Linked DNA regions of Homo sapiens: region 1 is linked to region 2. Evidence: fine-mapped QTL for protein levels in blood plasma. A gene starts in region 2. The other region holds a variant in brackets. All regions are shown on one strand. Distances are between the middles of the regions.

Region 1 (5,000 bases), 58 kb after region 2:
CAGCCTCCCTAATGAGGCTTTACCCTTTTAATCCTGTCACCACAATCATTTCTTAATGCTTCAAACATCCATATTAAGAATAATACACAGGCAGGGATGCAGGCAAGTAGAGGAGATAGAAGTCACAGTGTTTGAGATCCACAGGGTGATGATATGTTGTTCTAGAACTTAATTAGGCAGCGTGTTCAGCGATCCTATGGATCTCTCTGCTGCAATAGTATTTGGTCAGAACAGACCTGGGGATTCCCTGCCTCCAAAAAATAAAAAGCTAAAAAGCTAAATTTAAAAATAAGAATTAGTTAGAAAATCTGAGAAAAGCAATAGATATTAGAGACCATTCAACCTAACCTGTTTATTTTCCAGAGGTGGAAACTGTAGAGAAATGGAATATCTTCTATAAGTGTTTGGCCATAACTCTTAGTCTAGTATTCCCCCCACTCTGCCGTGCTCTGCACTTACACTTTTTTTTCTTTCTTTTTCACAGATAAATTAAAACCTTTCTGGTGCTATAACATCTCTGTGTATCCAATGTTGCATGACAAAGTTGGCGAGCCATATTCCATCCAGGCTTATGCCAAAGAAGGCGGTATGAATGGACAAGACCCTGTGGGGAAAAGGAAACAGTGTGACCTGTCCCACATGCCGATAAGGCTGCAAGTGCCTGTAGCTCATTCCCAGCCATCTTAGGGCTCATTTGTGCTTCATCTTGTAGTGAGCTCTGTATGTTATGAATTTGCTGAATTCTGAAGCTGGGGTAGACATTAGAGATCATTGAGTCCAATCCCCTCATTTCACAAATGGAAAATTAAAACTCAGAGAGGTGAAATAACTTGCCCAAAGTCACAAATAAACAGTGCAAATAGAGCTGCTACCAGCAATAACACTGAATTAAGACCACATCAGGGAGCCTAGAGTTCATCCTAAGCTAGGGATGTTAAAAAATTATTTTTAATTATGTAGCAATAAGCAAAGGCTTTACTGGTGAATTGCTCAAGCTTTACTTTTATCTTTTTGGAAGTTCATGTCTTCCAGATTCAACACTGGAAAACATCTTCTGCCACTCAAAGGTAGCCTATGGAGCCATATTCTTCAACTATTTGATAATAACTACACTTTACAGATATGAATGAAAAAGCTGGGTACCAAATTGGAGACATCTATGAGAAAGGACTTTTTCAAGTGGTCTTGTTGCCACTTCTCTTCTTGCTTAAGAGAGATGGTTCTAGAAAACAATTTTCCCAAACAAGCTGATTCATCAATTCCCTACTCAACCCTCACCCGTCGCCTCCAGCACTATGGTTTGGTCTGAGTACTGGCCAGGGCCTTTGTGGGGGAACGATCTCCTGGAGTGCGGTTCAGTGATTATCATTTATCCCTCTGTCCTTTCCAGTTCCATCAGAAGGTCCTGAGACCAAGGTGGAGAACATTGGCGTGAAGACGGTCACGATCACATGGAAAGAGATTCCCAAGAGTGAGAGAAAGGGTATCATCTGCAACTACACCATCTTTTACCAAGCTGAAGGTGGAAAAGGATTCTGTAAGCACGCCCATAGCGAAGTGGAAAAAAACCCCAAGCCCCAGATAGATGCTATGGATAGACCTGTTGTAGGCATGGCTCCCCCATCTCATTGTGACTTGCAACCTGGCATGAATCACTTAGCTTCTTTAAATCTCTCTGAAAATGGGGCCAAGAGCACCCACCTTTTGGGGTTTTGGGGGTTAAATGAGAGTGAAGTGACAGTACCTGAGAGGAGAGTCCTGAGGAAATGGAAGGAGTTGTTATAATTTGTCCTGGTTAGGCCCTGAATTGACCTCCCGGGAGCTCCCCGACCATCATTCCCAGGAATGGCGTGCCTGGCTTAAAGAGTGAGGAGGAACAGACCCTGTCACCATGACTTCTACTGCCCCTGCCAAATCATGCTTTTGTTTTTCAGTCCACCTTATCTCCTGACATCTTAAATACTGGGCAAGGCTTGGATTCTTGCTTAGGCTAAATAATTTTTTCTTATGGTAAAATACACGTAAAATATTTTTCCAGTTTAAACATTTGAAAGTGTACAATTTAGTGGCATTAGAAGCATTCACAATATTGTGCAACCATCACCACTATTTCCAGAACTCTTCTATTTCTGCCCAAATAGAAGCCCTATACCCATTCATTAGTCACTCCCCATTCCTCTCCTCCCACAGCCCCTGGCAACTACCAAACTGCTTTGTGTCTCTATGGATTGCCTATTTTGGATATTTCATATACATAGAATCATAAAATATGTGGTCTTTGTGTCTGGCTTCTTTCATGTAGCATGTTTTCAAAGTTCACCCATGTTATAGCATGATTTTGTACTTATTCATTTTTATGGCTGAATAATATTCCATTGTGTGGATATTCCATATTTTGTTTATCCATTCATCAGTTGATGAACATTTAGGGTGTTTCAACCTTTAGGCTATTGTGAATAGGGCTGCTATGAACAGATGTCTGCTACGAACATATGCTGCTGTGTACAAATATGTGTTTGAGTTTGTGTTTTTCGTTCTTTGGGGCATATACCTAGAAGTTGAATTGCTGGATCATACTGTAACTCTAGTTTAACTTATTGAGGAGCCACCAAACAGTTTTCCACAGTGACTACTCCACACTATACATTTTTTACTAGCAATGTATGAGAGTTTTCATTTCCCTGCATCCTTGTCAATACGTGTTATTTTTCATTAAAAAAAATTATTATGGCTGTCCTGGTAGGTATGTAGTGGTTATCTCATTGACTTGCATTTCCCTACTGACTAATAATGTTGGGCATCTTTTCATGTAGTTTTTGCCCATTTGTATATCTTTTTTTTTTTTTTGAGACGGAGTTTTGCTGTTGTTGCCCAGACTGGAGTGCAATGGCA[C/T]GATCTTGGCTCGCTGCAACCTCCACCTCCCAGGTTCAAGCGATTCTCCTGCCTCAGCCTCCCAAGTAGCTGGGATTGCAGGTGTGCACCACCACGTCCAGCTAATTTTGTATTTTTAGTAGAGATGGAGTTTCTCCATGTTGGTCAGGCTGGTCTCGAACTCCCGACCTCGGGTGATCTGCCTGCCCCAGCTTCCCAAAGTGCTGGGATGACAGGCATGAGCCACTGCGCCCGGCCAGCCCGTTTGTATATCTTCTTTGGAGAAGTGTATTTTTCATCTTTTTTCTTATGTTTAAATTGGGTTATCTTTTCGTTATTGAATTTATAAGAGTTCTTTATATATTCTGGATATAAGTTATTTATCAGATATATGATTTGTAAATATTTTCTCCCATTCTTTGGATTATCTTTTCATTCTTGATATTATCTTTTGATGCACAAAAACTTTGAATTTTAGTGAAGTCCAGCTTGATCTATTTTTTTCTTTTGATGTTTGTGTTTTTAGTGTCATATCAAAGAAACCATTGTGAAATTCAAGGTTGTGAAGATTTATCCTATGCTGTCTTCTAAGAATTTTTATAGTTCTAGTTCTTATATTGAGGTCCTTAATCCATCTTGATATTTAAGCAGGACATGAATAGGGGTCAGAATATGAGACAGCTGAGCTTGGAAGCACAGGTTCCAATGCTCTTATTTTGGTGCTACTGGGACACAATTTTCAGTCTGGTTTGGCTGTGGTGTTTGACCTTTGTATTTTTCCTTTAGCCAAGACAGTCAATTCCAGCATCTTGCAGTACGGCCTGGAGTCCCTGAAACGAAAGACCTCTTACATTGTTCAGGTCATGGCCAGCACCAGTGCTGGGGGAACCAACGGGACCAGCATAAATTTCAAGACATTGTCATTCAGTGAGTATTTCCTTCAAGCCTTAGGTACCTCTCCCTCACGTTTACCTTACATCAGAGAGAAATGACATCTGCCAAAAGCTGGAGGAAGCCAAATGAAAGGGCAGTGCCTAGTGCCCTGCCATCCTGCTCTCTGTTCACCAACCTTCCTGGAAAGCATATAGGTGAGGAGATGGGAGGGAAGAGCAGGCAAGTTGAGAGCCGAATTTGGAAATGCTGGTCATTTTGGTCGTTCCTCATGGGCAGCCACAAATCATCTGGAGGAGGAGGTGTCAAATTAATGCCAACTTCAGTCTTAGCACCAAACCAGCTCCCATCTCAAGGCTGTCTCCCCGTTCATAGTCACCAGTTTCTGCATGTTATAGGTTACGGTATGTATTAGTCTGTTTTCACGCTGCTGATAAAGACATACCCGGGACTGGGTAATTTATAAAGAAAAAGAGGTTTAATGGACTCACAGTTCCACGTGGCTGGGGAAGCCTCACAGTCATGGTGGAAGGTGAAATGCACATCTTACATGGTGGCAGTCAAGAGAGAATGAGGACCAAGTGAAAGTGATTTCCCCCTATAAAACCATCAGATCTCATGAGATTTATTCACTACTATGAGAACAGTATGGGGGAAATTGCCCCCATGATTCAATTATCTCCCCCTGGGTCCCTCCCACAACATGTAGGAATTATGGGAGCTACAATTCAAGATGTGATTTGGGTGGGGACACAGCCAAACCATATCACTGTACAACAGGGCCTTCAAGGGAAAACCTTGGTTAACTCAGGACTACTGACCCATAGGAAGGGGCTTAACCTCATCATTTGTGGAGGTTTTTTTTGAGCAAAAAGACATATGATATATTTAACTTACCCACTTTTACATTAAAAAATAGCAAGAAAAATTTACTAGAGACAACAAATAATGTAAAATAAAATGTAGCTTCATATGATGGCTGGTTAAGGGAGATATTTAGAGGCAGGCAGATGGAATGAGGAGGGGGATGAAGCAGAAAGAAGGAAGGAGAATGGGAGAAACAGATATATATTAATTTTGCTAAGTCCTTGAGTGACAGAGATTTGATTTTTAAGTACGTACTAAAACTGTCTTAAAGAATGAACAACGCTTTTTAGATTAAAAATGAAGGAACACTGCCAAGTTTTTGCAATAACTGAGGCAAGCTAAAAATTGCTTGAAATATTCTTGAAAGCCTC
Region 2 (5,501 bases):
GGGAATTAAACTTCATTCACTTCTTAAAGATAGCAGTATCTACAGATCACTTAGAATTTTTCTATAAGGAAAATTAGTCTCTTCTTCCACATTTATTTATGCAATCATTTATTAATATTAATATGAAGTAATGTATATTTATTTTATACTTTGAATTATAATCCAGTATACATTATTCACTTTTTTGCTCAAATTGTTCTGGCTTTGGCTGGAAGTTCTTTCAGATTGGTTCCTGTGTCCCTTTGACATGCTCTATCCTTTTGCTTTTTCAACATTTCCTTACTATCTGGTACTACAAGATACTCCAGGCACATTTTGTATTTTCGTTGCCCAAGTCCTGAAATCAACCTTTTCTCCAAAAAGCTCTGGGTTTTAAAACAAATTACAATTTATCTGTTTTGGTTTTTATAAGCATTGCCATGATGACCATCCTTGATGTTATATCTCTGGAAAACTCCATGATTATTTCTTTTAGATAAATATCTAAAAGTGGAATTCCCGGATTAAAGGCATCTAAAATGCTTTTACTATGTTTTCCACTAACAAGGTGTGAGATGGGGGGGCTGCCTCAGGGGCTGCAACTCAAAGCCCACTTCAAATGGGAAACACTATCCATCCGTCAATCCATTTATCTATCTTAGAACTCTCTTTCTATGACTTTCTTATTTTCAAAACAAACAAGGAATAAAGAAAGAAAAAAATGAAACAAGTAAACAAAAGACCTCTCATCTAGACTCTCTAACCACCCAACAAATCACATTGCTCCTCCTAGGAGGAAATGGTTGAGGTGTCAGACTGAGAATGACATCTATTTCCCTTCATGGGGAGAGCACTTGTTAATTCACCTATTAATTCACTTTTAAAATATAATTTTACATTTTATCAAAGTAATACATATACATAGTTTAAACATTCAAGTGGCACTCTAAGACTTACCACGAATAACAGCAATACAGTGCTATATCCCTTCCCATTGCCAAACTTTCTTCACAGAAAAAATCACTTTCATTTCTTTTAGCTTTTTTTTTTTCTGGGGTTTATTTCCATATCTATAAAGAACATGTTTATACTGCAATTTAATTTTTTTTTCAATTTTAGACATTATCTATTGACTTCTTACTAACTATGGAAGATAAAGACTGAAGTCTCTTACCAATTCTATACACAAACACACACATATGTGCATCCTTTCCTAACCCCATTCTTTCAATATAGTTATAACTTTTGTTAAATCCATTAATGTTTTCATTGTTGTGACTCTATAGTTATTCATAGCTGAGCCACATATTGGACTTTAAATATATTTTCTTATATAACATTTTCTTTTTCCTGGAATTAATAATTATGCCATTTTTTGGTTTCCTTAACTTACTGAGCCGATTACTCATCCTTCTCCAAACTTTCTAAGAGTGCTGCAAAACTTTTCAAGTTTCAACATCTGTCAGATCCATTGGGTCCCCTCCATGTATTTTTTCATTGGAAATATCCCTCCTTGAGCCTGGCGTCTGCCACTCACTTGGGCTAGTTGCTCTCCAAGCCTGTTGTACTCTTATCATCTTGGGATCTCCCTTGGCCACCATTCTTGGAATTCTCTCTCTTCTATTTGAAATTTGCTGTTTTTGGGAGCCCATTTTTCCTTTTTGTTTTGGCTTATGCTCTTGTTTTTGTAGTCACTTTTTTCAATAACATCTCGAAAATGGTCACATGGGAGATAAAGTTCTTGAAACTTGGCATGTTGGAAAATGCAGTTTCAAGAACGTTGTTTTACCTTTCTTTCTGATGGATCATTTGGATGGGTAGAGCATCCTAGGTGAGAAATAATTTTCCAATAGAGTTATAAAGGAATTGATCCATTGCTTTCTAACTTCTGGTTTTGTTATTAAGTCTAAAGCCATTCTCATCCTTGATCCTTTGTATGTGACTTATTTTTTTCCTATCTGGAAACATTTTTTTTCTGTTTATTCTTGATATTCTGAAACTTCACTGTTTTGTACTTCAGTGTAGATTTATTTTCATTTATTATGCTGTTTACAGTGGGCCCTTTCAATCTGGAAACAAATGTTCCTCAATTCTTGGGAATTTTATTGTATCACTTCTCTCATTATTTCTTTCCCTCCATTCCTCTGTTCTGTGCTTCTGTACTGCTGGTAGTCAGATGTTGGCTATTCTTCATCTCTTTGTCTTTTCTTCTATCTTCTGGAAGATTTCCTCAACTTTATTTTCTAGTCTTTAGACTTCAGCTCTCATATTTTGAATCTCCAAGAGTTCTTGTTCTCTAATTATGCCTTTATCATAGCATCCTATTCATATTTTGTGGGTACAACATTTTTTCTTATTTTCTATGAAGGTTTAACTAATATTTCTTTTAAAAAATATTCTGCTTTCTGCATTGCCTTTCTTTCAAGTTTTTTCCCCCCATCTGCTGTTGGGATGGGAGAAATTTAATGAATTTGGCTTTGTGGGGTTAGGATTAGGTAGTCTATTTCTTTTTCAGATTTTCAACCAATCTTATGATTTTTGTTTCAGAGGTATAGTCAATTCTCATTATTCCTTCATTATTCCTGGCAATTATGTTCAATAAAATCGCCACAAACACTGAATTAGAAAATACTGCTGAGCGTGGTGGCTCATGCCTGTAATCCCAGCACTTTGGGAGGCCGAGGCAGGTGGATCACCTGAGGTCAGGAGTTTGAGACCAGCCTGAACAACATGGAGAAACCCCGTCTCTACTAAAAATACAAAATCAGCTGGGCTTGGTGGCGCATGCCTGTAATCCCAGCTACATGGGAGGCTGGCCTGAGGCAGGAGAATCACTTCAACCCGGGAGGTGGAGGTTGCGGTGAGCTGAGATGGCGCAATTGCACTCCAGCCTAAGCAACAAGAGCGAAACTCTGTCTCAGAAGAAAAAAAAAAAGAAAAAAAGAAAATACTGAATTATTCTCTGTGGGGGAAATATAGAGTTAGGTGCCTGTGAGCCTCTGGTCACAACATTTTTGTCAGCTAATCAATACATAACCTTGTTTTGTGTGTGTTTCTGTTTAAAGACACCTTATTTAATATACATTGTTGATTCATCAACATTGAACTCATGGCTAATAACAGTACTATGACTCATGCCTGAATAGAGCTTATTTAACACACATATTTTCTCCATGAGGCACAGCCTCCTTCTGCTTAGGAACACCAGACAGCACTCCAGCACTCTGCTTGGGGGGCATTCGAAACAGCAAAATCACTCATAAAAGGCAAAAAATTGCAAAAAAAAATAGTAATAACCAGCATGGCACTAAATAGACCATGAAAAGACATGTGTGTGCAGTATGAAAATTGAGACAGGAAGGCAGAGTGTCAGCTTGTTCCACCTCAGCTGGGAATGTGCATCAGGCAACTCAAGTTTTTCACCACGGCATGTGTCTGTGAATGTCCGCAAAACATTGTGAGTATTGATTTGGGGGGTTACAAATAATTCCTAGCAAGTAGGTGAATTCACAAATAAGGAAGCTGTGAGTAATGAGGGTTGATTTTACCTACCTAGTGTCTCAAATCCTGAGCCGTATGAGATTCCGTGGCATAATTATGTTTGCTTATTGTTGGCAACCTTATTAGGCATTTCTAGGTTTCTGCTTTCTCATCTTTACCAGTTCAGTTATGGCTTGATTCATTTCTCTTTTTCCAAAGATTTGTTGACATCTCTTATTTGCTGTTGCCTCTTCCCATTTGTTTTGTCTTGTGGTTCTATATCTTTGCCATAATTTTTGTGGAGTTTCCTGAGAGAGTAGAGATAAATGTATATGCTCAATTGGTCTTGTCTTAACCAGAATTCTATTTAATACACAACACCTTTAGTGAGCTGTTATGCATGTAATAGGTGTTTACTAAGTATTGGTTGAATAAATTCAAGAAATGCTTGCTATTTTTGTGCTAGCATTTAGCTTTTCTCTATAGTATATTATAATGGAATTTTATTTTATTTTATTTTATTTATTTTTTGAGACAGAGTTTCACTCTTGTCGCCAGGTTGGAGTACAATGGCACGATCTTGGCTCACTGCAACCTCTGCCTCCCGGGTTCAAGCGATTCTCCTGCCTCAGCCTCCCGAGTAGCTGGGATTACAGGTGCCTGCCACCATGCCTGACTAATTTTTTTGTATTTTTAGTAGAGATGGGGTTTTGCCATGTTGGTCAGGCTGGTCTCAAACTCCTGACATCAGGTGATCCACCTGCCTCAGCCTCCCAAAGTGCTGGGATTACAGGCGTGAGCCACCACGCCTGGCTGGAATTTTAAATATCTCATAATTATAATCTTCTAGGTAAAAGACTAGCTCTCTTTCTCACCCTTATTCCTCCTACTTAGTGGAACATTGCCTAAGGAAGATGGGGAATGGGTTAAAAATTAAAATGTGGGGCTGGAAAGCATAGCTTGTTTTAAAACTTAGTTTTCTTTCCTTTTGCATCATAATCTCTTCCCCGGTCTATTTATTTCTCGTGGTTTTGTCAGTCCATTACAAACGGTTGCAAAATTGTGGTACTAGAAGGGATCCTAGAAATAATCTAATTTGAACCTTTGATTGCTAGGAAACTGAGAGTCAGGCTGCCTTGGTTCAAGTCTTGGCTCCACCACCCATGTAGGACATGTTGCTTACTGTTTTGACCTCAGTTTCCTTGCCTATAAAGTGGGAATAAAAATACTCCTGATGTTATAGGATTGTTGTGAAGATTAAAAGAGATAATTAATGTGAAGTTCTTAGTACTATGCCTGACACACAGTAAGAGCTCCACAAATTATTAATGATGATTATTACTAGTGGCTAAACTGAAGCTCTGGTTTCTCAGTTCAGTATGTTTTCCTTTAGACGTAAATAAGAATTTGTAAGCCTCTTTTTGGAGTCAGCTACCATTATTTTCTTTCCTTCATCTCCTTCATTGTCTAAAGACAGTTAACATGATTGCGTATTTCTCATTTCAAGCTAAAGATACTCTCACTGTTTCAGCTATTACCACATTTGTAAGGACTTCCTGAAGAGAAAATTTAAAAGTTAGTCACTTCTTTTAGTTGTTTCTGGTCTTTCAGATGATCCTTTTTTTTTGTAGAGTTGAGTGTTTTTGTTTTTGCTTTTGTTTTTAGTTAACAATAATGCAATCCATTTCCCAGCATAAGTGGGTAAGTGCCACTTTGACTTGGGCTGGGCTTAAAAGCACAAGAAAAGCTCGCAGACAATCAGAGTGGAAACACTCCCACATCTTAGTGTGGATAAATTAAAGTCCAGATTGTTCTTCCTGTCCTGACTTGTGCTGTGGGAGGTGGAGTTGCCTTTGATGCAAATCCTTTGAGCCAGCAGAACATCTGTGGAACATCCCCTGATACATGAAGGTGAGTGCTAATTCATTTAGAAGAGTGATAGTTTGATCATCTTTTTCTACTTTATAAAAGTCTTTTTCTGTTTTCTTCAGTGAAATTATGGGTCAGACCCACCACGTGAATTTCTCCTTGAACTGGTTGTT

Direction of the effects. Positions count from the first base shown, and alleles are read on the strand shown. Strength reflects both the effect of a copy and how common the allele is.
For the plasma level of the protein whose gene starts at base 3,160 in region 2, allele T in region 1 goes with a lower level than allele C (strong association).

What was found. A credible set is the group of variants that fine-mapping cannot tell apart. PIP is the posterior inclusion probability: the model's chance that the variant is causal. The UK Biobank Pharma Proteomics Project read protein levels with antibody pairs (Olink). The fine-mapping took linkage between variants from a reference panel, not from the people measured, so its PIPs are less certain.
Region 1: its variant is the best candidate, but not a certain one, in a credible set for the plasma level of the IL31RA protein (UK Biobank, PIP 0.57).

What each region holds. Positions count from the first base shown.
Region 1 is chr5:55,906,875-55,911,874 of GRCh38, forward strand. It overlaps IL31RA (interleukin 31 receptor A), which reads left to right. Exons shown (of 15, transcript NM_139017.7): 10 at 485-586; 11 at 1,391-1,537; 12 at 3,658-3,798. Among named protein-coding and RNA genes, the nearest start is that of IL31RA, 58 kb to the left of the region's middle. RefSeq lists an enhancer at 3,944-5,000. The variant C/T (reference allele first, on the strand shown) is at 2,893.
Region 2 is chr5:55,848,198-55,853,698 of GRCh38, forward strand. It overlaps IL31RA (interleukin 31 receptor A), which reads left to right and starts at 3,160. Exons shown (of 15, transcript NM_139017.7): 1 at 3,160-3,436. The coding sequence starts at 3,374.